7 linked regions of the Homo sapiens genome follow. The protein of the gene in region 1 interacts with the protein of each later gene in a pairwise test. Each region holds a gene or a part of one and is shown in the gene's direction. Other genes may lie near its edges.

Region 1 (3,660 bases):
CAAGGAATGTGGGAAATCATTTAGGTACAGATCCCACCTCACTGAACACCAGAGACTTCACACTGGGGAAAGACCTTACAATTGTAGGGAATGTGGGAAATTATTTAACAGGAAGTATCATCTTCTGGTTCATGAGAGAGTTCACACTGGAGAAAGGCCATATGCGTGTGAGGTATGTGGGAAATTATTTGGCAATAAGCACAGCGTGACTATACATCAGAGGATTCACACTGGAGAAAGGCCGTATGAATGCAGTGAATGTGGGAAATCATTTCTTTCCAGCTCTGCGCTTCATGTTCATAAAAGAGTTCATTCTGGACAAAAGCCTTATAAGTGCAGTGAATGTGGAAAATCCTTTTCTGAATGTTCCAGTCTCATTAAACACAGGAGAATTCACACTGGAGAAAGGCCTTATGAATGCACCAAATGTGGAAAAACATTTCAGCGAAGCTCTACCCTCCTTCATCATCAGAGTTCACACAGGAGAAAGGCCTTATGAGTGCAGTGAATATGGGAAATCGTTTGCTGAAGCATCCCGTCTCGTTAAACACAGGAGAGTTCATACTGGAGAAAGGCCTTATGAGTGCTGTCAATGTGGAAAACATCAGAATGTCTGCTGTCCTCGGTCTTAAGCGACTTCGTGTTGAGATGGAGTCTTGTTCTGTCACCCAGGCTGGAGTGCAGTGGTGCAGTCTTGGCTCGCTGCAACTTGGGCCTCCTGGGTTCATGCAATCCTCCTACCTCAGCCTCCTGAGTAGCTGGGATTATGAGTACACACCACCACGCCCAGCTAATTTTTGTGTTTTTAGTGGAGATGGGGTTTTACCATGTTGGCCAGGCTGGTCTCAAACTCCTGACCTCAAGTGATCCACCCACCTTGACTCCCAAAGTGCTGAAATTACAGGCATGAGCCTCTGCACCTGGCCTTCATTCTTTTCGTATTGCTTAGAATATGACATGCTGAACCAGGCATGGTGGCTCATGCTTGTAAACCTGATGCTTTGGGAGGACAAGGTGGTTCATTGGAGGCCAGGAGTTAGAGATCAGCCTGGGCAACATAGCCAGACCTCCTCTCTACAAAAAGAAAAAAGAATGACATGCTTCTTGTTTTTGTCTGTTATAAATGAAACTGCTATATTTGAATGCAGTTGTTCATGTAGGTATGTTTCACTATGGTAATATGGTGGTGTGCAGTGCCTGAGTCACGTGATAGATTAAAGTACAACTCTTTTTTGAGACAGAGTCTCACTCTGTCACCCAGGCGGGAGTTAGGTGGCATGATTTCGGCTCACTGCAACCTCTGCCTCCCAAGTTCAACTGATTCTTCTGCCTCAGCCTCCCGAGTAGCAGGGATTACCGGTGTGCACCACCATGCCTGGATAACTTTTTTTTTTATTTCTATTAGCAATGGGGTTTCACCATGCTGGCCAGGCTTGTTATGAACTGACCTCAAGTGATCTGCCTGCCTCAGCTTCTCAGGTGTGACCTACTGTGCTTGGCCTAATGTACAACTTTTTAAGCAATGCCAAACTATGACTTAAGAATGAAATTATTGCTCATTTGTATATCTATCTACCATCAGTGTCCAAGAATTTCTGTTCTATCTTACCAAGAGGGAGTATGGTTAGTATTTGAAATTGTTTATTATTTTAATAAGTGGTTATAACTTTTGAGTCAGTGGTTTATGTTTTGCATTTTTTTTGTTTTGAGACAAAGTCTCGCTCTGTCTCCCAGGCTAGAGTACCGTGGCACAATCTCAGCTCATTGCAACCTCTGCTTCCTGGGCTCAAGCACTCTGCCCACCTCAGCCTCCAGAGTAGCTGGAAATACAGGTATGCACCACCACAACTGGATAACTTTTGTATTTTCTGTAGAGAGGGTTTTACCTTTTTGCCCAGTCTGATCGCGAACTCCTGGGCTCAGGCGATCCACTTGCCTAGGCTCCAAAAGTGCTTGGTCTACAGGGGTGAGGCACCCTGCCTGGCCTCACCTGTAGGCTTGTTTTTTAAAATGAATTTTATCTATTTCCCATTTCATTAATATATTTAAAAATAATGAAATAACAAAGACGTATGTTGGACTTCATTCATTCTTCAGTGATGTCACTTTGCTGCAAGGAATATTTGGTTTTCTTTTTTTTTTTTTTTTCCAGATGGAGTCTAGCTCTGTCTCCTAAGCTACAGTGAAGTGGCATGATCTCGGCCCACTGCAACCTCCACCTCCTGTGTTCAAGCGATTCTGCCTCAGCCTCCTGAGTAGCTGGGACTACAGGCATGTGCCATTATACCTGGCTAATTTTATTTATTTATTTTAGTAGAGATGGGGTTTCACCATGTTACCCAGGCTGCTCTCTACCTTCTGAGCTCAAGTGATCCACCTGCCTCGGCCTCCCAAAGTGCTGGGATTACAGGTGTCAGCCACTGTACCTGGCTGAATACTTGGTTTTCAGTACCACAAGAACTATGAGCTGGTTATCCACTTCATGTGGAATCATAAGCGTCCCAAAGTGACAATACATATAGATTGCCAGGCAGTGAAACAGTTAAGATGCCACCATAGCTTTCTTTTCAACATCTTTCTAAGATTACCTTACTATTTCTTTTGTTCCAAGTTTGTACTTCCTCACAGTTCTCACATATGGAAAGGATACACACTTTGTAGAAACAAGAACTTTATGTTATCCAAGTTCTAGGATAGCCATGAGCTCCAATTATCTCAGAGCTCTGAGTCCTCTACTCAATACCCATTGAGATTTATGTGTTCTGAGGCTTTTGTCTTCTAGCTACTTACTTCATTCTCCATGGGTAACGTCATTCATCCACATTAACTAATTTCCTCACTCCAAGCTCTTTTCTAGAGATAATCTCCAGTCCCTGTGCAGAAACTGTCATTGCACTTTCTGCTGAAATGGCAGTTTCTTCTCAGCAAGGTGAGATTATGGAATCCAGAATCTTTTTTCAGGGGTCACATGCCCATTTCCCCACTTGCATGAATGTCGACACTGCAGCCACAGTTTTGGCCGTAAATGTGAATTTGGCAAGTAACCACTGTTCCCAGGGAAATGTCCCAATCAGAAGAAGATTATCTGGGACACTGATACTGACAGGGAGATGGGACATTCTGAGGGACCCGGAGGCAGGGTGCCACCTCCTCAACTTCCCTGAGGGCTGCCTAGAATCTGTTTCCTCTCACTCTGAATTATTCTTCCTCTTATGGCTGACCAAAAACATGGAACCTCACAAAGTCCACTGTAACAGCTTTATATTTGTGAAGTGAAGAACATGAAGACAGTTTCAAGCAAAGTTATTGAGTGGACACTTTGTGTTTTTTTTGAGAAGTCTCACTCTTTCACCCAGGCTGGAGTGCAGTGGCACGATCTCGGCTCACTGCAACTCCACCTCCCGGGTTCACGCCATTCTCTTGCCTCAGCCTCCTGAGTAGCTGGGACCACAAGCGCCCACCACGTCAGCTTAATTTTTTTGTTTTGTTTCTTGAGACAGAGTCTTGCTCTCTTGCCCAGGTTGGAGTGCCGTGTCGCAATCTCAGCTCACTGCAACTTCTACCTCCTGGATTCAAGCACTTCTCCTTGCCTCAGCCACCTCTTTAGCTGGGATTACAGGTGCGTGCCACCACACCCAGCTAATTTTTGTATTTTTAGCA
Region 2 (4,281 bases), on another chromosome or scaffold:
CCAGACCAAAGAAAAATGTTATCCAATTCCCTTATGAGAGACCTCTCTCATCTGCATCAAGAGACTCATTGGGGACCTCAAGCTATGTGTGATGCAGTCCTTTGGGTTTATGGATGTGTAGCAATTTACACTTTGACATGACAGGTTACAGATAGTTGCCTAGTATTTAGGATGACTAATAAGCAGACCCTCAGAAAACCACCTCTTAGGGGAAGGTATCTGGAATTAAGACTGTTCCAAAGTATCCAAGTTGATTACGCCAAGATGCCCCAAATTGGTTGTCTAAAATATTTATTAGTAATAGTAGATCACCTTACTCATTGGGTAGAAGCTATTTCCTTTCAAGTGCAACTGCTAATAATGTAGTCAAAACATTAGTTGAAAATATTATACCCAGGTTTGGATTAATAGGAAACATTGATTCAGATAATGGAACTCATTTCATTGCACATGTCATTAAGAAATTAGCCCAGGTACTGGATATAACATGGGAAATCATACTCCCTGGCACCCACCTTCATCAGGAAGAGTGGGGAAAAAAATGAACCAAACTCTAAAAAGCCACTTAAGCAAATTAGTCTTAGAGACTCGGTTGCCATGGACTAGATGCCTTCCCATTGCCCTGTTGAGAATCCGAACTGCTCCTCAGAGAGATGTTGGCTTATCCCCTTATGAAATGTTGTGTAAGTTGCTCTATTTGCACTCCGCTGCTGACATTCCCATGTTCGAAACAAAAGATCAGTTTCTCAGAAATTATATACTTAAGTTTATCTTCCACTTTCTCTTGCCTCAGAACTAAAGGTCTTTTAGCACAGGCACCACCCCTAGAGTTTCCAGTACACCAACATCAGCCTAGGGACCACATCCTTGTCAAAAGTTGGAGGGAAGGAAAACTTGAACCAGCTTAGGAAGGACCCTGCCTAGTGCTTCTAACCATTGAGACCACAGTTCAAACAGCAGAAATGGGATGGACTCATCACACCCAGGTCAAAAGAGCACCACCTCCTCCAGAATCATGGGCAGCTATTCTAGGGCTTACTCTAACCAAGCTAAAGCTAAAACGGGTTTGATCCTCTTATGTTGCATCTCTTCTTTTCCCCATCTATTGCTAGTCCTCTTGTTATTAATGTAACTAGGTCGAGTTCACCCCAAACTATTACCTTTGATGCTTGCCTTGTGATGCCCTGTGGAGATGTGCCAAGCCAGAGGCAACTCTCCACTTCAGAAAAGTATCTTTGTCCTTCCTAGCTCTTCTCAGACTGGAATTCTGTTAACTGGGATAAGTTAGCTTGGGAAGAGTTTGACGGAGATTCCAGTATAAACTGAGAGTCTTGCCTTCCCAATACAAAGCTTTTATGCTGTAGTTGGTCCAACATTCTGTGGACCACTAAAGAGCAAGAATAGATTGCCCCAAGCAGTAGTTGTAATTTCCTAAAGCTATACATTCATTTTACTAAAGGAACAGCTTCCCCTAACTGTCAGCTAAATCAGTACAATCCAGTACAGGCTATTATCTCAAACCCTCTAAGTTCTTCCCCTTCTCTAAGCCAATTTCCTTCTTTAAGCCAGTTTTATAATATGGGGGCTGAGGTTTCAGGAGCAGACCCTATCAGATCCTTTGAAATATTCTTCATTGCTCCCCCACCGCCTACACCTTCCCCTAAGCCTTCTTCCAGAACCTCCCACAACAAAACTGTTGTTCTTCCTCCATCTAATGACAAGACGAAGGTAGCTATTGTAGAAGTCAAAGTCCTAAAAGAAACTTTAGCAATTGAGACGGGATATCAAAATGCCAATGCCTGGTTAGAATAGATAAAATATTTCATCCGCACTTTAAACAAAAGCAATTGTTATGCTCGTGCGCATGGCAGGCCAGAGGGCCAGATTGTCCCCTTTCCACTATGATGGTCCTCCAGTCAACCAGGCATGGGCTGTATGGTAGCTCTTTTTCCAGGATTCCACAGCCTGGGGTAACAAGTCGTGCCAAGCTCTTTCTCTGCTATATCCCGAAGTTCAAGACCCCACAGGTTAGCCCCCGAGGGCCATCCAGCTTCTGTCTCCCGACACTGAGTTCATTTTGTGTCTCTCACGACAAAGAGGAAACTTAGCATCCCTTAGAGACCTAAAAGGATGCGGTGAGCTTAAGACTTTCCAAGAGCTCACCAACCAGTCAGCCCTTATACACCCCCGAGCAGATGTATGGTGATATTGTGGTAGACCTTTGCTGGACACTCTGCCTAGTAACTGGAGTGTCACTTGCGCCCTAGTGCAGTTGGCTATCCCTTTCACCCTGGCATTTCATCAACCAGAGAAAGAAAAAAACACAATGTCATAAAGCAAGGGAAGCCCCTTATGGGTCTTTCGACTCCCACATTTATTTAGATGCAATTAGAGTCCCACGAGGAGTACCAAATAAATTTAAGACCTGAGATCAAATAGCTGCTGGATTTGAGTCAATATTTTGGTGGGTGACAATTAATAAAAACGTAGATTAGATAAATTCCACCTATTACAACCAACAGCGGTTTATTAACTATACTAGAGATGCTGTTAAAGGAATAGCTGAGCAATTAGGGCTTACTAGCCAGATGGCTTGGGAAAATAGAATGGCCTTAGACATGATTTTAGCAGAAAAAGGGGAAGTTTGCATCATGATTAAAACTCAGTGTTGTACCTTCATCCCAAACAATACCGCCCCTGATGAAAGTATAACAAAGGCATTGCAAGGTCTAACTGCTCTGTCCAATGAGTTAGCAAAAAACTCAGGAGTAAATGACCCCTTCACAGGGTGGCTAGAAAAATGGTTTGGTAAATGGAAAGGGATCACAGCCACCATCCTTACTTCTCTTGCAATTGTAGCAGTAGTGCTTATCCTTGTTGGATGCTGCATCATACCTCGCATCCGTGGGCTAGTCCAAAGACATACAGAAACAGCCCTTACTAAAACTTCTCTCAGTTCCCCTCCACCATATTCTGACAAGCTCTTTCTTTTAGAAAACCAAGCAGAACAGCTATGCCAAGACATGTTAAAGAAATTTGAAGAGGAAGACCTGTAAAATTCAAAAGGGGGATATTGTTAAGTACAGTGAGTTCTGAGTTCCTCTGGGAACCAGTATGTCAGTATGTTCAGCTTTCTTATACTTTGTTCTCCATTTTAAAGTTTAACTTCCTCATTCTTTACACCTCCTTGCCCTAGTTTCAGTAAACAACCCCCTTCTAGCCTTTATACTCACATATTTAGAGTCCTTAGTCATCCTTAGTCACCTGCTCTGTCCTTAGTCATCCTTAGTCACCTGCACTGTAACCATCCTTCCTGCCTAAACTGCTCACCCCGCCACTCTGCCTCATACCCAGATAGCCTATCAGAATTAGTTTAGACTGTGCGGTCCAACCCTAGCCAATAGGGGAATGACACAGTAGTAGGGACTAGCTGCATTAGGGATAAGAACCCCTTCTCCTCCCATGCCCGGTATGCTCTTGCGACCACTCCAGGCACGATTGGCACCCTTCTGCAGAAGTAAATTGCCTTGCTGAGAAAGCTTTTTGCCGGAGTGCTGATTCTTCTTTGCGGCACCAAGCATTTGTTTCTAACATCAACTATCTACTTTCATTTTTCAGGTTAAGAAATCTCCAAAACAGTTGGCTGCTTACATAAATAGGTAAGAGTTTCTTTAAAGTTTGTGGGGAACAACAAATATGAAAGCTGGGTAAGGATGACAATAAGGGAAAAATAAGCATTCTTTTATCATAATAATAATTAACTTATTGTCAAACAGCTTCTTTATGCCAGTATCTGCACTAATAAACACATCAATATTGTCTCTGCTCCTTACAACAGTCCTACTCTATAGCCTACTCTATAGATAACATTAACCCTAACAGTTGATGAGAAAACTTAAGATCAGATAAGTTAAATGATTTGTTCAGAATCATATAGCTAGAAAAGTGGTAAGAATGACATTCATTCTCAGATCTGCCTAACTTCTAAAGGCACTTTCTACAAAACGACTGGTTTTCAAAGTGTGATTTGAGGACCTGCGGGTCCCTAAAGACCATTCATGGAATTTGTGAAGTCAGAATTACTTCCATAGCAATACTAAGACATTGACTGTCTTCATTTTCATTCTCTTGTTTGAGGGTACAATATAATTTTTCAAGAAGCTATATGCCATTTGATATCACAGTAGATTGAATGGAGAAGCAGAAATGAGAACCCAGCTGTCTTTTGTTAAACCAGATATTAGAGATATATAAAAATGTAAAACAGTACCATTCTTCTCA
Region 3 (4,281 bases), on another chromosome or scaffold:
ATAGCAAGGAACCAATAAAACAGGTGGATGAGAATGGGATAGTAGTCACCTAGCTTCTGGCTGATGGATCTTCCCCTCATTTTTTGCTACATGCATTTTTTTTTTTTTAGTAAGCTATGTTTCAAAAAAAGAAAGAAAAAGAGTATGGGGTAGGCGACATACTATTTGTTAATCTGTAACTTTTTTTTTAAATTTTAAAATGTATTTTGAATAACTTTCCAGATCTCATTATGGCTGCATAACATTCAGTTGTATAAATGCAGCATACACAGAAATGCTTATACATTGGGGAATAAGGAGAGGAAAGAGACTTCTGCTTCTTATTCATGTCCTTCTCTGTGATTTGTCATAAATGTGTGTGTGTAGCTTTTATAGCGTATTGTTCTTAGCATATGATTCCAGCAGTTAAGCTTGGGAATTGGCTCTATAGAAAGGACTTTGCATATGAATAAAGATTTAGAATCATTTTATTTTTAGTGAAAAACCAGAAACCTGTTTCCAAAACTAAACAGTTAAATGTTGATATATCCATGTAGGTAGTATACCATTGAGGGGGAAAATACTGGCGAGATCTATACAAAAAGGTTATAGTAATTACCTTTGAGTTAGTTAAAATCTTTTAATGTGTATTTTTCAGTTTCTGATTTCCTTATAAAAATATGTACCATGATTTTATTTAGAAAAATTAATTTGCTTTGCAACTCTACAGAATAAACTATGCAAAGAAATGATAAAATATTCATTGAGAGGCCGGGCACAGTGGCTCATGCCTGTAATCCCAGCACTTTGGGAGACCAAGGCAGGCAGATCATGAGGTCAGGAGATCGAGAACATCCTGGCTAACACGGTGAAACCCTGTTTCTACTAAAAATACAAAAAATTAGCCAGGTGTGGTAGCACGCACCTGTAATCCCAGCTACTTGGGAGGCTGAGGCGGGAGAATCACTTGAACCTGGGAGACAGAGGTTGGAGTGAGCTGAGATCATGCCAGTGCACTCCAGCCTTGGCAACAGAGCAACACTCCATCTTAAAAAAAAAAAATTCATTGAGAGTTTGATATTCTTACCAGACTTAGATTTTAAAATATTAAAATAATAGTTTGTTTAGGGGAGGACATAGGTAAAAAAATTTCAAGTCCTGGGCTGTTATTCAGTAGGTAGAAGGCATGTGGTTAAAAAAAATTTACTTGTGGCTTTGAGTCAGTTTTTGTCTTTTTTACTCTTCTTTCTCCTTTCAGTTACAAATATAGATATACCTTTTAAATATAAAAAATATTTAATATATTTAATTTTTGTGCTTTCTATATATAGTATTATAAATTTAGAAAAGTATTAGTATAGAAATCATTAAATACTGTTTATATGTCATTTTATTGAGGAAAAACACTGGTTTTCAAATGTCAATATTTTAATGTTGTTTTCTATTTCATAATTCTTTCAGGCATAGACGTGCCAGAGATCAATGAGGAACAGAGCAAAGTTTATAACAATGCCTTGATAAATTGGCACCATCCAGAAAAGGATAAAGCTGATAGCTATGTTCTTGAATATCGGAAAATCAATAGAGATGATGAAATGTCATGGAATGAGATAGAAGTGTGTGGAACAAGTAAAATAATTCAAGACTTGGAAAACAGTAGTACCTATGCTTTCAGAGTAAGAGCTTACAAGGGTTCAATCTGTAGTCCTTGCAGCAGAGAATTGATTCTTCATACTCCTCCAGCTCCAGGTATGGTGAATATCAGGAATAAAAAAAGCATAGAGTTAGTTGCAAGAGACCTTGATAAAATAAACTAGTCAGTATCTCCATGTAGACCTGCACTGAAACCAGCTCTTGTTTTTAAAAGACTCCAGAAAAGTAGCTTCTATCCCAGCTGGGCTTTAGAAATGAACTGAGTACTTGAATTTTTACCTTGTAGGCTGAGAACAGGATTGGGTTTTAACTGATGTCAGATAGAGAAAAACATGGAAGGAAGAAATTTGGGTGAGCAGAGCTAGTAAGTTGGGATTTAAATAGCATAAATGCTATTTTAAAAGTTTTAAATATATAATTCTGTATTTTTGGTTTATGGAAATCTCTAAAACATAATTTTTAAAATTTATTGGTCTAATATCCTAAAATATAATTTTGATTTAACCTAATTCTGATTTGTCTGGATTTTTTTATCTAACTAGGCACTTCTCAGATAATAGGGATGGAAGCCATATATTAGAACCACATGAATAGCTTTTCCTCCCACGCTAAAAGCTCCTTATGCCCAGTCATCGCCCCCTCCCTTCCCAAGTTAAAAACCACTGATACTACATATAGAGCGCCTAAAGATTTTTATAGAATGTGAATGACTTTAAAGGTTCGTTGATGTTCACTATGATGTCTCCATGAACAAGGGATATTTAGAACCAAAATTGTGCTCAGCCTGGTTAGCAGGAAAACGTTTTCCCCTTTCAGTCACTGCCTCAGAGATGCCTTTAATTGGATTTTAGGTCCACTGTCCCTTGCCTCTTTTTAGTGTCTTATGTACCCATATTTTCTTCACTCTCCCCTTTCTTCCTTTTTTGTTCAAAATAGAAAAGCACAATTTGTTTTTCATGCACATTGTAGCTTTTAAAAAATTGGAATACAAACATGGAAGATTGGCTAAAATTATATTTCTTAAATTTTAATCAAATCCAATAGAGAGTTTTGGGATGAATTTGCAGGTATTAAGTAACTATTTTATGGTTTATGCTATTTCTGCTTCCTTTTCTAGTCTTTCTGCCTGAAAGTGGAAGAAAAACCTGGACATAACTGCTGTTTTCAGTCACATAGTGGAGGGGAAGGGAGGAGAGGAAGTGTTAACAGTTGTCTTCCTTTTTATGAGAGAAGATACGTGACTAGGGTGACCCTTTAAATTTATTTTGCAAACTGGGAGACTTTTGAGATTGAGAGCAAGCACAAATAATCATGCCAGGAAAAGAGGCATTAGCAGGAAGAATGGTCAGCTCACACGTGGGTAATGGCTGTAGTTTGCTAGCAGTCTTTTTTTTTTTTTTTTTTTCTTTTTGGAGGTGGAGTCTGGCTCTGTCACCCAGGCTGGAGTACAGTGGCACCATCTCAGCTCACTAGCTCACTGCAACCTCTGTCTCCTGGGTTCAAGCAATTTTTCTGCCTCAGCTTCCTGAGTAGTAGCTGGGATTACAGATGCAGACCAGCATGCCTGGCTAATTTTTGTATTTTTAGTAGAGCCAGGTTTCACCATGTTGGCCAGGCTGGTGTCACACTCCTGACCTCAAGTGATCCACCCACCTCGGCCTCCCAAAGTGCTGGAATTATAGACGTGAGCCACCAGGCCCAGCTGCTAGCAGCCTGTTTAAAATATATATATATATGTATATATATATATACACACACACACACACACACATAGAGAGAGAGAGAGAGATGGGGTCTCACTATGTTGCCTTTGCTGGCCTCAAACTCCTGAACTCAAGTAATCCTCCTATCTCCCATGTAGCTAGGACTAAAGGTGTGCACTATGATGCCTGGGGGTCATTTTTTAAATTGTGGTGTAATAAAGATAAAATGTATTATCTTAACAGTTTTTAAGTATACAGCTCATTGGCATTAAGTACATTTACAGTATTGTTTAAATATCACCACTTTTACCTCCTTAACTTTCATTATTCTAAACTGAAACCCTGTACCCATTAAACAGTTACTCCTATTTCCCCTCTCCCCAGAGGCTGGTAACTTTGATTCTAATTTCTGTCTCTATGAATGTGCCTATTCTAGGTATCTCATATAACTGGAATAATGCAATATTTGTCCTTTTACATCTGGCTTATTTATCCATGTTGTAGCATGTATCGAAATTTATCCATACATGTAGCATGTATCATACATGTTGTAGCATGTATCCAAATGTATGTATCCAAATTTATCCATGTTGTAGCATGTATCCAAATCTTTCCTTTTTAAGGCTGAATAATATTCCATTGTATGTATATACCACATTTTCTTTACTCATCTGTTGATGGACTTTCTGTTGTTTCCCCATTGGCTAGCAGCCAATGTTATGCTTAATATATTTGAGTTGATACAGACTTATGGGAGTGGTATCATCATTCTGCAGATGAATAAATTAAAGTTTAGATGAAACTCTAGTTGAATGCTTGAGTAGGATTCAAACCCAGGTCTCTCTCAACCCAAAAGCTGTGTTTTTGTTTTTGTTTTTTTACAGTGTCCCATGTTTCTTATGTCTGCCATGTTGGTTGATACAGAAAAAGCTTTATTAAAATAGCT
Region 4 (4,281 bases), on another chromosome or scaffold:
GCGGTGAATTTGTTTTTGAGCAAGATGTGCTTGGATTGCTGGTGGAATATCCAGTTGGAGATGTGTATTTAAGATTAGTAAAAGAAGCCAAACATTTACAAAAGGGACAGGAAAAAGAAAAAGAGCCTTAGAGGACAGATATGAGAAGATATGAGTCAGGGAAGGAGGAGGATCAGATTTCTATTTCTAGGGGCTTCAGGAGTCAGGTGGACCTGGACTTAGTGAGTCAGTAGTGTCACAGCTCCTGCAAAGGTAGAGGAGACTGAGGAATGAAACTTGATCTTGGATTTATCTATGAGGAAGTCACTGGTCATCTTTTAAAGAGTTGTTTTAGTGGAAAAGTGAGACGACTGCTAACAGACTGTAATCTATTCATCCTACAGCCTTTCCCAAGTGGCCAGAGGACTGGACAAAGAGCCAGAAATATTGTTTCTAGTCCTGGCTCTGCTGCTAATTACCATTGTATTTGGGGCAAGTCACGTATGCCTGGGCTGGAATAGAAAAAAATACATCCGAGCTGGGCTCGGTGGCTCATGCCTGTAATCCCAGCACTTTGGGAGGCCGAGACAGGTGGATCATCTGAGGTCAGGAGTCCGAGACCAGCCTGGCTAACATGGTGAAATCCCATCTCTACTAAAAATACAAAAATTAGCTGGGTGTGGTGGCAGGCACCTGTAATCCCAGCTACTCAGGAGGCTGAGGTGGGAGAATCACTTGACCCAGGAGGCAGAGGTTGCAGTGAGCCGTGATCACGCCATTGCACTCCAGCCTTGGTGACAAGAGCAAAATTCCGTCTCAAAAAAAAAAAAAAAAAAAAAGACTTGAATCCTGGCTGGGCATGGTGGCTCACACCTGTAATCTCAGCACTTTGGGAGGCCGAGGCAGAAGGATTGCTTGAGCCCAGGAGTTTGAGACCAGCCTGGGCAATATAAGGAGACCTCGTCTCTACAAAAAATACAAAAATTAGCTTCTACAAGAACAAAAAAATTAGCCAGGTGTGGTGGCACATGCCTGTAGTCCCAGCTACTCGGGAGGCTGAGATGGGAGGGTCACTTGAGCCCAGAGGTCGAGGCTGCAGTGAGCTGTCACTGCACTCCAGCCTGGTCAACAGACTGAGACTCTGTCCATATAAAAATAAATACTTTAATCCTAAACGTTGACACATCTATTTTAGACAGCATATATTGATATGTTGGTTCAAGTCGTCTTTTAAAAGTCAAAGGTAGGCCGGGCGTGGTGGCTCACGCCTCTAATCCCAGCACTTTGGGAGGCCGAGGCCAGCGGATCATGAGGTCAGGAGATTGAGACCATCCTGCTTAACACGGTGAAACTCCATCTCTACTAAAAATACAAAAAATTAGCCGGGCGTGGTGGCGGACACCTGTAGTCCCAGCTACTCAGGAGGCTGAGGCAGGAGAATGGTGTGAACCCAGGAGGCGGAGCTGGCAGTGAGGTGAGATGGCGCCACTGCACTCCAGCCTGGGTGACAAAGCGAGACTCCATCTCAAAAAAAAAAAAAAGTCAAACGTATAAAGTATGAAGGAACCTCTGTGTTTATCTATTCAAGATTACCATATAGTACAGAATCAGCTGTAGATATTCTTAGATTTTGTAGTACTGTTAAAATACAATATTATAAAAATGGTATATGGAAAAATACTCTAATCCTACTAATTTATTTTTATCTTTTGTTTTTCTTCTAATCTTTGTTCTAGTACAGACAACTTTGAATTCTGCTTTTTATGTTTTACACTTGTATATGTGAGCATTTATCATGTTGCTGCCTAGTCTATACTACATAGTATTTTTATTTTTATTTTTATTTTATTTTTATTTTTTGAGATGGGGTTTCACTCTTGTTGCCCAGGCTGGAGATTATTCTTAAACTATGTTAAATACACTATAACTCTAATACTTATTTAATTAATTTTGTTTAATTACATAGTATTTTATAAAGTTGTTAAACCAAGATTTAACTATTTCTTTATTGTTCAACATATTTTATTATTTTCTAATTTTGTCCAATTAGAAATTAAATGGTAGAGTAAATTGCTGAATGCATTGAACATAAAACAGGCATAAATACAGACTCATTTTAATTTAAAAAATTAAAACAAAAAAAGTCCAGGCTTGGTGGCTCACGCCTATAATCCCAGCACTTTGGCAGACAGAGGTGAGCGGATGGCCTGAGGTCAGGAGTTTGAGACTAACCTGGCCAACATGGTGAAACCTTGTCTCTACTAAAATACAAAAATTAGCTGGGCATGGTGGCAGGTGCCTATAATGCCAGTTACCTGGGAGGCTGAGGCACAAGAATTGCTACAACCTGGGAGGCGGAGGTTGCAGTGAGCTGAGATTGCGCCATTGCACTCCAGCCCTCAATAAAACCAAAAGGACACTTTTATTCCTAGCAAAACCTAATAGTCTGGAGAACATGTTCCATGGAGCACACTTTGGAAAATGCTGATACAGAAACAATTTTAGAGCTCTGAAGAACCAAAAATCTAGTCCCCTAAATTGACAATTGAAGAAAATAGTATTCAAATTCAATAAACATTGATTTGGCTACCATAGTTGATTTCAAATATATCAGTGGTGCCCAAAAATGTCCCAATAAAGTAGTTATGCTTAAACCCCTGTTAAGAAATAAAACAGGCTCTAAGAAGTTAAATGACTTACCCAAGATCAAAAAGTGGCAAGTGGTGAAGTGAGATTTGAACCCAGACCTCTCGAGTCAGTGCCTTCTCCGTTAACACATCCTGCTGCTTCCCTGGTCATCAACCCTGAATACATTAAACTGGTTGGATAGTTTAGTGACTTCAAATATTTTCACTTTCTTGGAAGTAATGTGTTTCAAAAGTGAAGTTTAATTTGTATGGTATTTCATGTTACCTTACTATCAGCATATAAAAAGTGGGAGAATAGGCCAGGCGGGGTGGCTCATGCCTGTAATCCCAGCACTTTGGGAGACCGAGGCAGGCAGATCATGAGGTCAGGAGATCGAGACCATCCTGGCTAACGCGGTGAAACCCCATCTCTACTAAAAATACAAAAAATTAGCCGGGCGTGGTGGCGGGCACCTGTAGTCCCAACCGCTCAGGAGGCTGAGGCAGGAGACTGGCATGAACCCGGGAGGCGGAGCTTGCAGTGAGCCGAGATCTCGCCAGGGCACTCCAGCCTGGGCGACAGAGCAAGACGCTGTCTCAAAAAAAAAAAAAAAAAAGTGGGAGAATATACAGTCAGCAGTCCCTGAAGTTACATTTTATTTTATTTATTTTTAGAGACAGGGTCTTGCTCTGTTGACCAGACTAGAGTGCAGTGGCGTGATCACAGCTCACTGCAGCCTTGACTTCCCACCTCAGGCTCCCGTGTAGCTTGGGACTACAGGTGTGCACCACCATGCCCAGCAGTTTTCTTTTTTTCCTTTTTTTGTAGACATGAGGTCTCACTGTGTTGCCCAGGCTGGTCTGAACTACTAGGCTCAAGCAGTCCTCCTTCTTTGGCCTCACAAAGTTCAGGGATTACAGACATGAGCCACCATTCCCAGCCTGAAGTTAAGTTTAAGAAACAGTAGGCAGGGATAAAAAACAAACAAAACAACAACAAAACCTCATTATATTCAACTCTGAATAGCAGGAAGGCGTACCCATGATGCCTGAATTTATGTGGTGCATTGAAAAATATTCTTAGCTAACTCTACAATTGCTTACTCTTTCCTTTTACAGCTTTTCCCCCTTATATTGACCAATTCCATTTTCTTCTCTGCTGCCTGCCTAATCCTGACCACACCCTTCTTAACACAGGCCAGAGGTTGCCCTTAACAAGCAGGAGTCTACTGCACTAGAGGTAAAACACAGCCTCTCAAGGGATTATTCTTTGATTCAATAAATATCTTCTTATCTACCTTGACAAAATAGGTAAATCTCCTTTTTAAGGAAATAATCTTGTAAAAGAACCAAGATGATTTTATAAAAATCTGGGAAAAAGTGGATCCAGAATCTGTTAGATGTTGCTCAAACTAGATATTTTAGACTTTTACTTTAAGTTCTATTTGAAGTCATAAATAATAGAAACTTGGTATACTCTGATGTTAATTTCATTGAAATTCTCCAAATAATACAAAACAGTGGCTAAGAGTGTTGGCTCTGACATCAGATATCTGGATTAAAAATCTGTCTCTGGGCCAGGGGTGGTAGCTCATGCCTGTAATCCCAGGACTTTGGGAGGCTGAGGTGGAAGGATCCCGTGAGGTCAAAAGTTCAAGACTGGCTGGCCCGAGAC
Region 5 (4,787 bases), on another chromosome or scaffold:
GAGGGCGTCTTACCCTTAGCTTCCCCACTACCTGACTGGGGTTTGGGAGTAGGAGAGCTTTGTTCCTGGGCTTCCCCTTCCTGTCCCTTGCCCTGGTAAGCCGTGCAGACTCTAATTCTGCCTGTTACAGGCTGTAGGGAATACACGCCAGACTTCTTAGCCAAGTGTGGTGGTGAAACCCACCAACCTGTGCTCCTTAATGAGAGAGATCTGGGTGTGGGGCACAGCCCAAGGTCCACACTCTTTCACCAACTCCCAATATTCCAGGAGAGAGCCTGGGGCCCCTCCAGCGCAAACTCAGGGCTGCATGATTGCGCAAGGCACCCGAAGCCCTCCTGGCTGACCTGCAGACTGCCTGGCTCTGGTTTTAATCCATGCCTGTTTCTAACTCACAGAAACGTGTGAGAACGTGGACTGTGGACCTGGGAAAAAATGCCGAATGAACAAGAAGAACAAACCCCGCTGCGTCTGCGCCCCGGATTGTTCCAACATCACCTGGAAGGGTCCAGTCTGCGGGCTGGATGGGAAAACCTACCGCAATGAATGTGCACTCCTAAAGGCAAGATGTAAAGAGCAGCCAGAACTGGAAGTCCAGTACCAAGGCAGATGTAAAAGTAGGTCCTACCCTGTTGAGCAAGACTGGATCTGTCCCCTCCTCCAGCTTTGTACCTAAAGTAGACCCTCTAGAAGACCCTTGGGGGATGGTGTAGTCCGCAGTAAGAGCCTGATAATAGTAATACTGAAACCAAATAAAGGAGTCCTTTTCTAACCTCTAGAGATTCATTAAGAACACTGAGGGGACCAACCTAGTCATAGATTCTCTCTTGAAAACTACAGGGCTCCCTAAGTGCCTTTTGAAAGCTGGATGCTTCAGTGTCATGATTTCCTTGGTAACTTCAAGTGCTCACTCCCTAAGGACTAGAAGGTACCTATTCATGTGTGTTTCCTTCTTTGTTCCAGAGACTTGTCGGGATGTTTTCTGTCCAGGCAGCTCCACATGTGTGGTGGACCAGACCAATAATGCCTACTGTGTGACCTGTAATCGGATTTGCCCAGAGCCTGCTTCCTCTGAGCAATATCTCTGTGGGAATGATGGAGTCACCTACTCCAGTGCCTGCCACCTGAGAAAGGCTACCTGCCTGCTGGGCAGATCTATTGGATTAGCCTATGAGGGAAAGTGTATCAGTAGGTATTCTGGATTGAGGAAGGAAAAAGAGAAAACAGGCTAGTTCTATTATTAAACTGTGGGGTTAACTAATAAGTAAAGCCCAAGGCGTCCCCAAACACCATAGGGAGAAATACGCTGCAATTTGGGGAAAGTGTTGTGACCACAGTATTCCTCATGGAAACCATTGTCTTCTGGAGGCATTGACACATATATTCAAATGCCAGCAGGAAGCAAGGAACAGTATTCCGTCTTAGAAAACTTAGAACTTACTCAATTTTACACATTTTTTTAAGTGCCAGACTTGCTGGAAGCGAAAAATAATTACTTAGCAGTTCCAGAAATCTGTTGTCAGATTCTAGTAATTAATGGAATTCTTTCTTTTGTAAAAGATCCCACTTGTGGGAAATAATAAGATACATATTTAACTTGAGAATATTGTAAAATCCTGTTCTTAAAAAAATACCCTTTTAATGCACTAATGTAGTATGTAAGAAACTGCAGGGGTTTTGTGCGTGTGTATGTGTGTGTGCATTTGAGTTTCAGTTTTATTATCCAGCATTTTTGCATAATATCTCCATTACCCCCATTAGTAATAGGCTATTACTATTATGTTTATATAAAATAAATTATGTTTATATTTATTGATAGAGGACTAGAGAAAGGGAGAAAAGGGGGATATGGGGAAATCAGTTTACTCATCACAGATGTATTATATCCTAGAAGCAAAGTCCTGTGAAGATATCCAGTGCACTGGTGGGAAAAAATGTTTATGGGATTTCAAGGTTGGGAGAGGCCGGTGTTCCCTCTGTGATGAGCTGTGCCCTGACAGTAAGTCGGATGAGCCTGTCTGTGCCAGTGACAATGCCACTTATGCCAGCGAGTGTGCCATGAAGGAAGCTGCCTGCTCCTCAGGTGTGCTACTGGAAGTAAAGCACTCCGGATCTTGCAACTGTAAGTGCGATTTTTAACCTTGCTGCCATTTAAGGCTTTCCCAGGCAATCCCTAGGGAATGGACACTTACAAAGCACGCAGATCTCCCATAAATCCATTTCTGTTCAAATTAGGTAGCTGCTAAGTATCACCAGCAATTCAATAATCCACAGAAAATTCTCTGCGATGTTTCTTGGCTTTTAGGACTTATCTGGTGATCATCAATGGGGTTGCCTCTAGAAATCTATTTCCAGTTGTTTTCCCCTATTTCTTGTGTTTTGGTAGTGTGCTTTGCTGTTTGCTTTATTAACATTTGAGTCTAAACTAACTGCTTCAAAAGTTTTTTTTTTTTTTTTCCAACGACAGCTTCATATTATCACACATGGGCTGCTGCTTTTTGCAGTTGCCTCTACTAACTCTGAATTAAGGACCCAAAGCAGTTATACCTAGAACACAAGAGCGCTTTTTATCTAATTTCAGGAATCTGCCCGTAAAACCTGAGCCATTGATTCTTCAGAACTTTCTGCAGTTTTTGACTTCATAGATTATGCTTTAAAAAAATTTTTTTAACTTATTGCATAACAGCAGATGCCAAAAACAAAAAAAGCATCTCACTGCAAGTCACATAAAAATGCAACGCTGTAATATGGCTGTATCAGAGGGCTTTGAAAACATACACTGAGCTGCTTCTGCGCTGTTGTTGTCCGTATTTAAACAACAGCTCCCCTGTATTCCCCCATCTAGCCATTTCGGAAGACACCGAGGAAGAGGAGGAAGATGAAGACCAGGACTACAGCTTTCCTATATCTTCTATTCTAGAGTGGTAAACTCTCTATAAGTGTTCAGTGTTGACATAGCCTTTGTGCAAAAAAAAAAAAAAAAAAAAAGAAAAAGAAAAAAAGAAAAATATATTGTCCATACTGTAAATAAGTGTATGCTTATTTATTTGGGGGGAAAACTATACATTAAAGGACCTTTGTCCTAAAGCTCTCTCCCAGGCCACCTTGTTACTCATTGGACACGGAGAGGCATTCATTGTGAGGTCTACTGGATGAGGCCCATAGTTGAGACTTGTAGACATTTATTTATACTGTGTCATGTTTTATAATTTATACATAAAATGTCTGGTTGACTGTATACCTTGTTTTTGAAGAAATTTATTCGTGAAAGGAAGAGCAGTTGTTATTTATTGTGAGGTCTCTTGCTTGTAAAGTAAAAGCTTTTTTTCCTTGTAAACCATTTAAGTCCATTCCTTACTATTCACTCACTCATCTGTCTCCCTTCATTTCACTGTTAGACTCTTTTCCACTTTCAACAAACTTGCATGTCAGTTTCTGTCATGTTTATTTATTGGATTCTCTGCTGCCTGATCTGTACATACATGATCCCTCGGGTTTTGTTTACAAGGAACCTTGACTGACCAAAAGGCATTATAACTCTGACTCAAATACAAGGTACAGAAGATAAGCATCTTTGAGGAAACTCCTACTTCAGTTCTTTTGTTATGATGAAGACATTTGTGAGAGAGGAGATGATTAGAATTCTAGTAATGTACTTTTAAGATGTTACAGATACAAAGAAATGATGTGGGTGTCAGGAGACTAAAGGATGTTGAAGGCTACACATTCAACCTTTTGTTAGGTGTTTCCTTTAAGCTACTCAGCTGTACCTTTTAAATTAGTTCTTTTTCAACCAGTATATCACTAAAAGTTATATCAAAGCTTTATCAGTTCAAGTTTCTTGCTTTTCATAATACTTTTTTCTGATGCAATTTTATATTTTCAAACATGGCAAGTTAAAATATAAATTCATTTAAATATATAGTTTTGTACTTTTCTACCATGTAAATGTGCAATGTATATAAAAGTTATAATGTGTATTTGTAAATAAATGATGAGTGAAAAAATAAAAAAATTTTAAAAAGCCAATGGTTTCAATTCCTGATGATGCAAAGAAGTTATTTGGACTTTTGAGTAAAAATGTGTATGATACCTTTGCTGAGGAATGTAGCTATCTCTGAAATTACATGGCCAGGGCAGTACAGATCACTTCACTGGAGTTTGAAAGATAAAGGGATCTGAGGTCCAGCAACCCCACTGTAGGAGTGGCATATACCTGTCACTAACCACAGAAGGAACAGACTGTAGATGTGGGTTCTTTCCTGCAATATGCCAAGGCTAATATTTCCTCTTTAAAAACACCATCGTTTTAGCTGTCCTTGTTGCAAGCTCATCACCATAGCCAGGGACACGCTTCATCTTACTTTCCCATAAATCCAGTGCAGTTTCAGTCTTTTAAAAAACAACACACATCACAAGGAAAGCTGACAACAGATATAATATTTGACAAACACATTCTAGAAATCAGAATATCAGCTGCAGAAGTAGACATTATAGTGTTGGAATGCTAGGGACTTGATGAGGTGAGGATGGGGTGGAGGTGAATTTCCACAATGATGTCCATGGTTAGGGATCAAATAATGTCACTCATTGTAAGAGGAAGTGTATCAATATTTCACAGTTTACACTAGACACTATTAGAGCTTCAGAATGGTGTTTAGGACATCAGTCAATGGTCCCTGTAATACATAGGAATACATAACTAGATCATAAACATAAGTTTCCAATTCATTGTGTGCTACATACTCAAAGCCTAAATATATTAAAAATATCAAAGAAGTACAAGATGC
Region 6 (4,281 bases), on another chromosome or scaffold:
TCTGTCACCCAGCTGGAGTGCGATGGCGCAATCTTGGCTCACTGCAACCTCTGCCTCCTGGGTTCAAGCAATTCTTCTGCTTCAGCCTCCCAAGTAGCTGGGATTACAGGCATGCACCACCATGCCCGCTAAGTTTTGTATTTTTAGTAGAGATGGGGTTTCACCATGTTGGCCAGGCTGGCTTACGATTCCTGGCCTCAAGTGATCCACCCATCTCAGCCTCCCAAAGTGCTGGGATTACAGGCGTGAGCCACCATGCCCTGCCCATAGTAAAGTGTTAATTTTTCCTCATTTCTATGTGTTTTCTCCTCAAGGCTAAAAACTCTTAGTTGACTTGTGCTGCATTTCAGATACCAGTAGCTCAGAATCCCCGTAGTCAGTTTTTAGAGGAAGATAGACTCTTTTTTGCCTATGTTATTTGACCCCATAATATTTTCTTATGTTTTCTTATGTTGTGAAAGGATTATACTCCACTATTCTAATTGTTAGGCCCACTGAAGTAAATACACATCTTTCTAGAAAGGTCCTGCTGTGTGCTTCAGAAATTGTTTCTAAAATAGACCTAACAAAATTATTCTAAATTATTTAAATCTTTGGCAAGAGGCTAGGATCTTTGAGTTTTCTTTTTAACTTCTTTGTGATTTGGGACAATTGGTCTTTATTATACCTCAGAAAAAAAATTATGCACTGCTGGTAATAGAATAATGGAGATGATGGAAATTACAGGAGATTTTTCAACTCAAGAAGATTAATGGTTGTATTCTTCTAGATCTGCTTCTCTAAATTTACGTGCAAAAGAAATCACCTGAATAGCTTTTTAAAGATGTAGATTGTGGAGCTCAACTCCAGAGAAAGAAATTACGAGGTATAGGTGGGACTTAAGAATTTGCATTTCTAACAAGTTTCCAGGTGATAGTGATGCTGCAGGTTCGGGGACTGCATTGGAGGAGCACTGCTAAAAACTCTTAAATACTACGAGAAAAGGAGTGCCAAGGCAGATAGAGCACAGTATATATCTTGTATATTATTTATTATGTTTTTTCCCCACAGTTTTCACAGATATTTTTATTAAGGTACTTTAATAATATTCTGATACGTCTAAAATAGTTAAATTCAAATCTCCAAAGAGCCCAAATTTTACTTACTGAAAAGTGGAAGGTTTTTTCATATTTCCCCTAGAAATTGTGACAAGAGCTCAGCTTCTGCCCTAAAACAATAGTACTTTTCCTCAGAGACAGTTGGTGTTATGATTCATCATCTTAGACCCTCAGTAATTTTAATATCAATTTATTATTTCCAGATTTTCTGTTTAAATGCAGACTTCCTGTGCATTAATAGTTAAAAATGTTCTAGATCTTTCCCTTAGTGTGTCATCATCTGTCTTAGAAAACTGGGATTTGAAATGAAACAAGCTGAGTTGGGTGATTTTGAGGTTGAGATTATCCTAATCATGTGGTCTGATAAACATGTTTATGTGCGTAATTGATTCATTCAGTAAATATGTAGTGTGTGCCTATTATGTGCCAGACACCGTACTGGGTGCTTGAGATTCAGCACCAAATTGCCTTTAGGAAACTTACATTCCATGTAGGGGAAGCAGAGAGAGAGATCTATTAGATAATGGTAAGTGCATCGAAAAAAAATTAAGCACAGTAAGAAGTGTTGGAGATAGAGAAGAGATTGCTGGGTTTTAAAAAAAATTTTTTCCCAGCTTTATTAAAGTATAATTGACAAATATTGTATATACTCAAGGTGTACAGCATGATGTGTTGATATACATATACATTTTGAAGTGATTGCCACAAATTAACACATCCGTCACTACACATTTTATGCGTGTATGGTGAAACCACTTAAGATCTACTCTCTTAGCAAATTTCAAGTAAATAATACAGTATTATTAACTAAAGTCACCATGCTATCATTGGATCCCCAAAACATATTCATCTTATACTTTGGCCAGCAAGATTGCTGTTTTGGATAGGATACGCAGGAAAGACCAACCTGATAAGGTGACATTTGGCAAAGACCTGAAGGGAGCAAACCACACAAATGTTTGAGTGAAAAGGAATCCACCCCTAAGAAGCAACTATCCGAGAATAAAGACATTTGTTATACTAATTCAAACCAGAATCTTAACACCTTAGCCTGATAGTTGTAGCAGAACCTATTTCAGATTCTCTTATCTGTTACAGATGTGTTAAATTCAGTTTTTTTTCCCAATATTCTGCCTATGAGACTTTCTTTCCATTCACTTAACTCTGTTTTTCCCTGTAAACTGAAAGCAAGGAAACTATTTCCTAAGGACCCACTGTTTTTTGTTGTTGTCATTGTTGTTTGTTTTTTACAAATGGTTGACTTTGAAGAAATAATACCAGAACAAAAAATTTGTTTTACTAGAATATCTTTATAATGTTATTTGTGATTTCCTCTTACTAGGCTGCTGCAGAGAAGTTGGTGCAAGCCTTAATGGAAAGAAATTCAGAATTACAGGCCCTGCGCCAATATTTAGGAGGGAGAGACTCCCTGATGTCCCAAGCACCCATCTCTAACCAACAAGCTGAAGTTACCCCCACTGGCCGTCTTGGAAAACAGACTGATCAAGTAAGAACTATAGACTTACATAATTCATGCTGATTCCATTTCCTTTTTACATTTGAGGTGTAAGTTTGATAATTTTAATACCAAATTCTGAGAATATTCTCAGTACTGTCATTGTGATCATAGTTCCTGCATCTTCCTAAGTCCCCTGACTTTTGCAATTTTTTAGGGTTCAATGCAGATACCTTCCAGAGATGATAGCACTTCATTGACTGCCAAAGAGGATGTCAGCATACCCAGATCCACATTAGGTAAGTATCAAATTTCATTTCATTAAGGGACTTTGTTTTTCTCTTGTTTTTTCTTCTAGTAATCTCTGTATTATAGGTTTGGCCAAGACTCTTTTCTCTTCCTACCTTAATAGAACAAATAAGTTTGGAATTCCTCTGAAAGGCTGAAGAACTGTCCTTACCTTATGTTGAGTTGAGCTGATTGCTCTGGGTTCACAATTCGGCCCAGAGAAATTCTATCCTTACTCTCCTTTTCAGATAGCTTTGCAGGGATTCAGAAATGCAGGAGGTAATTGTTCCAATCCTGCACAGCAGGGCCATGAGCTGACACCTTTTCCTGGGTATCGTTTCAAGTCTGGGGCCACTCACTGTAACTTGACATCACCTACTAATGTTATATATATATATAATGTTAGCATAGTTTGATAGTTTCTGGCACAATAAGATGTTCTATGATTACCTTTTGCTTTACCTGCCTCAGTCCCAGAATCAGCCATTATCCTAAAGAGCTCCCTGGTTCCTTTTGGTGGGTAATGGCATTCAGAAACTATGATCTGGACACAAGATGTGTTCATTGCTACATGAATGCCTTTTGCTTCTAGGACCTTTTTTTTTTTTGAGACGGAGTCTCGCTCTGTCACCCAGGTGGGAGTGCAGTGGCACGATCTCTCTGCTCACCTCTCGAGTAGCTGGGACTACAGGCGCCAGCCACCACACCCAGCTAATTTTTTTGTATTTTTAGTAGAGACGGGGTTTCACCGTGTTAGCCAGGATGGTCTCAATCTCCTGACCTCGTGATCCGCCCTCCTCGGCCTCCCAAAGTACTGAGATTACAGATGTGAGCCACTGCGCCCAGCCGCTTCTAGGCCCTTTTAAGAGAACAGAACTAGCAATGAATATTTTTAAGTATGTATGTGTGTATTTGTATATATGTGAAGATTTGATACTGATTTCCTTAATTCCAATTTAACAATATAGGTTCTTTTTTCCCTCATTTCATATTTGTATCTCCTTGAGAGCCCTGGTTACTTATAGCATCAATATATTTCAAAATATTTACACAGTTGCAGAATACTATAATATGCAAAAGTATTTTTGGAATTGTTACATAAATATCACCATCAACAATAAATGTATTAAGTAATGTTTAAGATTTTTTTGTAATTCTTTTTATCCTTAGGATATTTTGCACTGACAGTGTTCAGTTAGAGTAGTAGTGAGTTCAAAAATTATTTGGATTAATTTTTTTATTATCTTCTGGATGGTTTTGTTATCTATTTGCTATATAGATTTATTTATTTATATTAGTATTCAATTTTAGACCTTTTCTCTCTCATTCATTGTCAAACTGACTTACACATTAAAAATTAAACATTTACACAGTTCAAAACTCTAGTATATAAAATGATATACTCAGATGTCCAATATTTTCCTGTTCCTTCTCTCCTGT
Region 7 (3,666 bases), on another chromosome or scaffold:
GCCCAGGCAGCATGCAGATGAGAAGCAGGGAGGCCCCAGGACGGAGTAGGGACCAGCAAGGATGCCTGGGAGGGAGTGGCCAGTAGGCTGGGGGACACCAGGCGAGTATGGTGGCCCAACAACCACTTGAGAAGGGGGCTGCAGTCAATGCCCTGGCCGGCTGGCTTGCCAGCTGCTGAGAGACCAGGTCAGAGGGCCAAGGAGAGGCATTGGGATTTGGGGAACTGGAGGTCGGTGGTGGAGTGGAGCGGTGGTTCCAGACACAGGCCACCCTTCTAAGGAGTGTGGCTCTAACAGGAGGACAGGAGGACATGGGCTCGGGACAGGAGGTGCTTCTTAACGTGACAAGGCCAGGCCCCTTACCTAAGTGGACACTAGTCCTGGGGCCCTCTCTGCAGGGTTGGTGCACATGAGGAAACTAAGGCATGGCCAGCTTGAGTGGTTTCCCAGGTGACCCAGGTGGTGTCTCGCAGACGGAGCCAGAACTCAACCTCGGGACTCCGACTCCAGCAGCCCCGGGCCCTGGGTGGCCAGAGTGCTTGCCTCCACCTGTTCGCTCTGCCAGAGTGTCCCGTGAGCATTTCCTCCCCGAGCCAGCAGCTGCGGCTGCTCAGGAAAGGCTCCCAGCTGTCCCAGAGCTGGCCACCTCAGACATGGACAGCCCAGGGGCTTGGGTACTCAGCCAGGTGCCCCAGGGGCTATGGGCATGGCACCGGCTTCCCAGTGGCAGCCACTCCTGGCTGTGGCTGGTGGGGCTCAGTGGCAGACCTGGGCTGGCTGGGCAGTGCCTGCAGCCCTCTGGTGCCAGGGGCAGCCGGTCGACTGGGGTCATACAAGGGGTCAGTTCTCAGCTCTCAGGCAGCCGTGCTGTTCTGTTCCTAGGAGGCCCAGGGAGGCACTGAGAGGGGTTTGGCGACTCCGACGCCCTCCACCGTGTAGGCCAAGTTGGGGGCACCAGCCTTCAGTGAGGGAGGCTCCAGGGCCGTGGTGGGGGGACAGAAAGGTGCCTGTGTCAGAGACAGCCTTGCCTGGACAGCAGGATGCCTGGTGCTGGCTGGGTTGGGACTGTGGCCAGCCCTTGCCAGGAGCAGCCATGGGGCAGCTCAGGTGGGTCACTGGGCCTCCGGGCCACCCCAGGGCTAGCTGTCAGAGCCCTCGCAGTGGGGACCCCGGAGGGGCGGGAATGCAAGCCCCAAACACAGGCACATGCAACAGAGATTTTCAGTGGCGAAGCCACACCCCTTGAGTCCTACTGTTTGCATCTGTTTTCAGCTCAGGAGGCTGAGCCAGCGCCCGCCTGGGCCTGAGGTCACACACCTGCCCAGTCCCTGCCCAGCCCTGCAGCCACACTGTTTCCAAACCACACTCTGGGAAGAGGGTTGTGAGCAGCAAGTCTGAAGTGCGGGGTGGAAGGTGCTGGGGGTTCATCCTGCCTCCCATTCCTGCCTGGCACTCCCACCCCGTCATCTTTGGAAGGACGCCGAGAGCCTGAGGGACAGGGACAGGGAGACCAGGCCTGCTCTACGAGCCTGGGGGAGCTCAGGGCCATTGGGGCTCCTTCTTCTACCACTGCCCCCCACCTTGTGGGAGGTTCCCATCTTGGCAGTGCTCAAGGGCACCAGCTAGGGCAGCGGCAGGGCCCTCCATGCTCCGGCAGCCCCAGGTCAGAAAGAGGCTCTCATTTTGCAGGCAAGAGTGTGGAGGCCAGAGAGGGCCGGAGCCAGCAGTGGGTCCTTGTCCTGCTGAGCGCACAGCAGGCCCTGTGCACACCACTGCCCCCGCTGGCCACTTGGCGCTGGTCAGGGCGGCGGGGCCTTGGCTGGGGTGAATGGCGCCAAACGCCTTCTCTTGTCTTTTAGGAGCTCTATAGGAAGGACTGCAATCTAGCGGCCCAGCTGCTGCAGTGCAGCCAGACCTACGGCAGGGTCCACAAGGTGTCTGAGGTAACGTGGCCCCGCAGCCAGGCCCACCCCGCCCCGGGACCACCGGGCTCCTTTTGTGCCAGTGCTACCCCAAAGCCATTTCCCATCTTTGAGGAGGAAGATGCCAGCTGAGCCTGAGCCTCCTCTGTCCCCCTCGCTCCTGTGGGGTCATGACATTGGAGGGGCCGCCAAAGGCACCCCACCTCACGCAGCCGGGCAGCCCCTGGCCCTCACCAGAGTCCCTTTGGCCCACCCCGGCTGCTGGTTGCCCTCGGTTTCCTTTGGGGGGCTGCTCCAGGTCCTTGCTTCCACTGAGCGCTGACACGGCAGAGTGACCTTTGTGGAGCTTCGCAGGAGCCTGTGGCTGGGCACGATGACCGGCAGTGCCTATTTCAGAAAGAAAACATTCAGGAAAGAGGGCGTGGCTGAGGCCACGTGGCAGGCAGGTAGCAGAGCCAGGACCCAGAACCAGGCCTGTCTGATGCCAAGGGCAGATGGGCCAGAGGCCCACCCCTGCCCGCCTATGGTCGCCGCACCCTGCGCACCCCGTCCCCCGACCCTCCCCTCACATGCAATCTCCCAGCCAGGCCTGTGCGTTCCTTTCCCCTGGTCCTGGGCCATGCCTGAGACACTCACAAAATAGATCAAACAGTAGCGGGACACCCCCACATGGCACCAGGCGCTCTCAGCCCTGGCCCTCAATCTTTGTTGCATCTGAGTCTGTCTTCTTCAGGAGCGCTCCAGCAGCATGACTGGGGGGCTGGGGAGTGGGTCATGCCCCCAGTAGAACCCACAGAACCCACGGGCCTGGGAGAGCAAGTCAACCCCTCGCTGGGCACAAAATGGGTGGGGTGGGGGTGGCGGGGGGTGGAGCCTTGAGTGGGGCCTGAATCAGACCTGGGTTCCGGCTTCTCCAGGCGACTGCAGCTTCTGGGCTCTCCTGGGCCCAATCAGAGTGGGGTGGGGAGAGGTGACCCAGGATCCCCAGGCAGTCACAGCACCCACACCCCTGGGAGCTTGTTCAGTACAGCGTCCTGGATCCAGGCTCCCCCTGGTGTGATTTGAGAAGCCGGGAGGCCCCCGTTCGTCTGTCTGCCTGTCGGTCATGGCTAACATCAGTCCTCAGCTTCAGGGCCAGGGCTGGGCTGCCATGCTAACAGTGACCCTGTACCCGCCGTCCCCCTCCTCGCACCCGTTCCAGCTGCCCTCGGATTTCCAGGAGCGCGTGAGCCTGCACATGGAGAAGCACGGCTGCAGCCTGCCATCCCCGCTCTGCCACCCGGCCTACGCCGACAGCGTCCCCACCTGCGTCATTGCCAAGGTGCTGGAGAAGCCGGACCCCGCCAGCCTGTCCTCCCGCCTGTCCGATGCCTCCGCCCGCGACCTGGCCTTCTGCGACGGGGTGGAGAAACCAGGCCCGCGGCCCCCCTACAAGGGAGACATCTACTGCAGTGACACAGCCCTCTACTGCCCGGAGGAGCGGCGGCGAGACCGGCGGCCTAGCGTGGACGCGCCCGTGACCGACGTGGGCTTCCTGCGGGCCCAGAACTCCACTGACAGCGCGGCCGAGGAGGAGGAGGAGGCCGAGGCGGCGGCCTTCCCGGCGGGCTTCCAGCATGAGGCCTTCCCCAGCTACGCAGGCTCACTGCCCACGTCCAGCTCCTACTCCAGCTTCAGCGCCACGTCGGAGGAGAAGGAGCACGCGCAGGCCAGCACGCTGACCGCGTCGCAGCAGGCCATCTAC

What was found.
Region 2: the proteins of ZNF587 (region 1) and KATNBL1 interact in binary tests that used the Homo sapiens proteins (3 or more experiments, as listed by UniProt).
Region 3: the proteins of ZNF587 (region 1) and TRIM36 interact in binary tests that used the Homo sapiens proteins (3 or more experiments, as listed by UniProt).
Region 4: the proteins of ZNF587 (region 1) and CCDC125 interact in binary tests that used the Homo sapiens proteins (3 or more experiments, as listed by UniProt).
Region 5: the proteins of ZNF587 (region 1) and FST interact in binary tests that used the Homo sapiens proteins (3 or more experiments, as listed by UniProt).
Region 6: the proteins of ZNF587 (region 1) and PDE4DIP interact in binary tests that used the Homo sapiens proteins (3 or more experiments, as listed by UniProt).
Region 7: the proteins of ZNF587 (region 1) and BEGAIN interact in binary tests that used the Homo sapiens proteins (3 or more experiments, as listed by UniProt).

What each region holds. Positions count from the first base shown.
Region 1 is NC_000019.10:57,859,642-57,863,301, forward strand, and holds part of ZNF587 (zinc finger protein 587), read left to right. Parts: coding exon 1-499; 3' UTR 500-3,660. UniProt on the Homo sapiens protein: May be involved in transcriptional regulation.
Region 2 is NC_000015.10:34,154,022-34,158,302, reverse strand, and holds part of KATNBL1 (KATNB1-like protein 1), read left to right. Parts: intron 1-3,618; coding exon 3,619-3,659; intron 3,660-4,281.
Region 3 is NC_000005.10:115,131,307-115,135,587, reverse strand, and holds part of TRIM36 (E3 ubiquitin-protein ligase TRIM36), read left to right. Parts: intron 1-1,440; coding exon 1,441-1,728; intron 1,729-1,918; coding exon of another isoform or gene 1,919-1,923; exon of another isoform or gene 1,924-1,965; intron 1,966-4,281. UniProt on the Homo sapiens protein: E3 ubiquitin-protein ligase which mediates ubiquitination and subsequent proteasomal degradation of target proteins. Involved in chromosome segregation and cell cycle regulation. May play a role in the acrosome reaction and fertilization.
Region 4 is NC_000005.10:69,326,037-69,330,317, reverse strand, and holds part of CCDC125 (coiled-coil domain-containing protein 125), read left to right. Parts: intron 1-4,281. UniProt on the Homo sapiens protein: May be involved in the regulation of cell migration.
Region 5 is NC_000005.10:53,483,109-53,487,895, forward strand, and holds the end of FST (follistatin isoform FST344 precursor), read left to right. Parts: intron 1-395; coding exon 396-614; intron 615-960; coding exon 961-1,185; coding exon of another isoform or gene 1,186-1,224; intron 1,225-1,888; coding exon 1,889-2,119; intron 2,120-2,578; coding exon of another isoform or gene 2,579-2,580; exon of another isoform or gene 2,581-2,819; coding exon of another isoform or gene 2,820-2,842; coding exon 2,843-2,925; 3' UTR 2,926-4,026; downstream 4,027-4,787. UniProt on the Homo sapiens protein: Multifunctional regulatory protein whose primary function is to antagonize members of the transforming growth factor beta (TGF-beta) superfamily including activin, myostatin, GDF11 or bone morphogenetic proteins (BMPs).
Region 6 is NC_000001.11:148,969,741-148,974,021, forward strand, and holds part of PDE4DIP (myomegalin), read left to right. Parts: intron 1-2,439; coding exon 2,440-2,604; intron 2,605-2,770; coding exon 2,771-2,852; intron 2,853-4,281. UniProt on the Homo sapiens protein: Functions as an anchor sequestering components of the cAMP-dependent pathway to Golgi and/or centrosomes.
Region 7 is NC_000014.9:100,538,773-100,542,438, reverse strand, and holds part of BEGAIN (brain-enriched guanylate kinase-associated protein), read left to right. Parts: exon of another isoform or gene 1-1,859; coding exon 1,860-1,943; exon of another isoform or gene 1,944-2,309; intron 2,310-2,819; exon of another isoform or gene 2,820-3,123; coding exon 3,124-3,666. UniProt on the Homo sapiens protein: May sustain the structure of the postsynaptic density (PSD).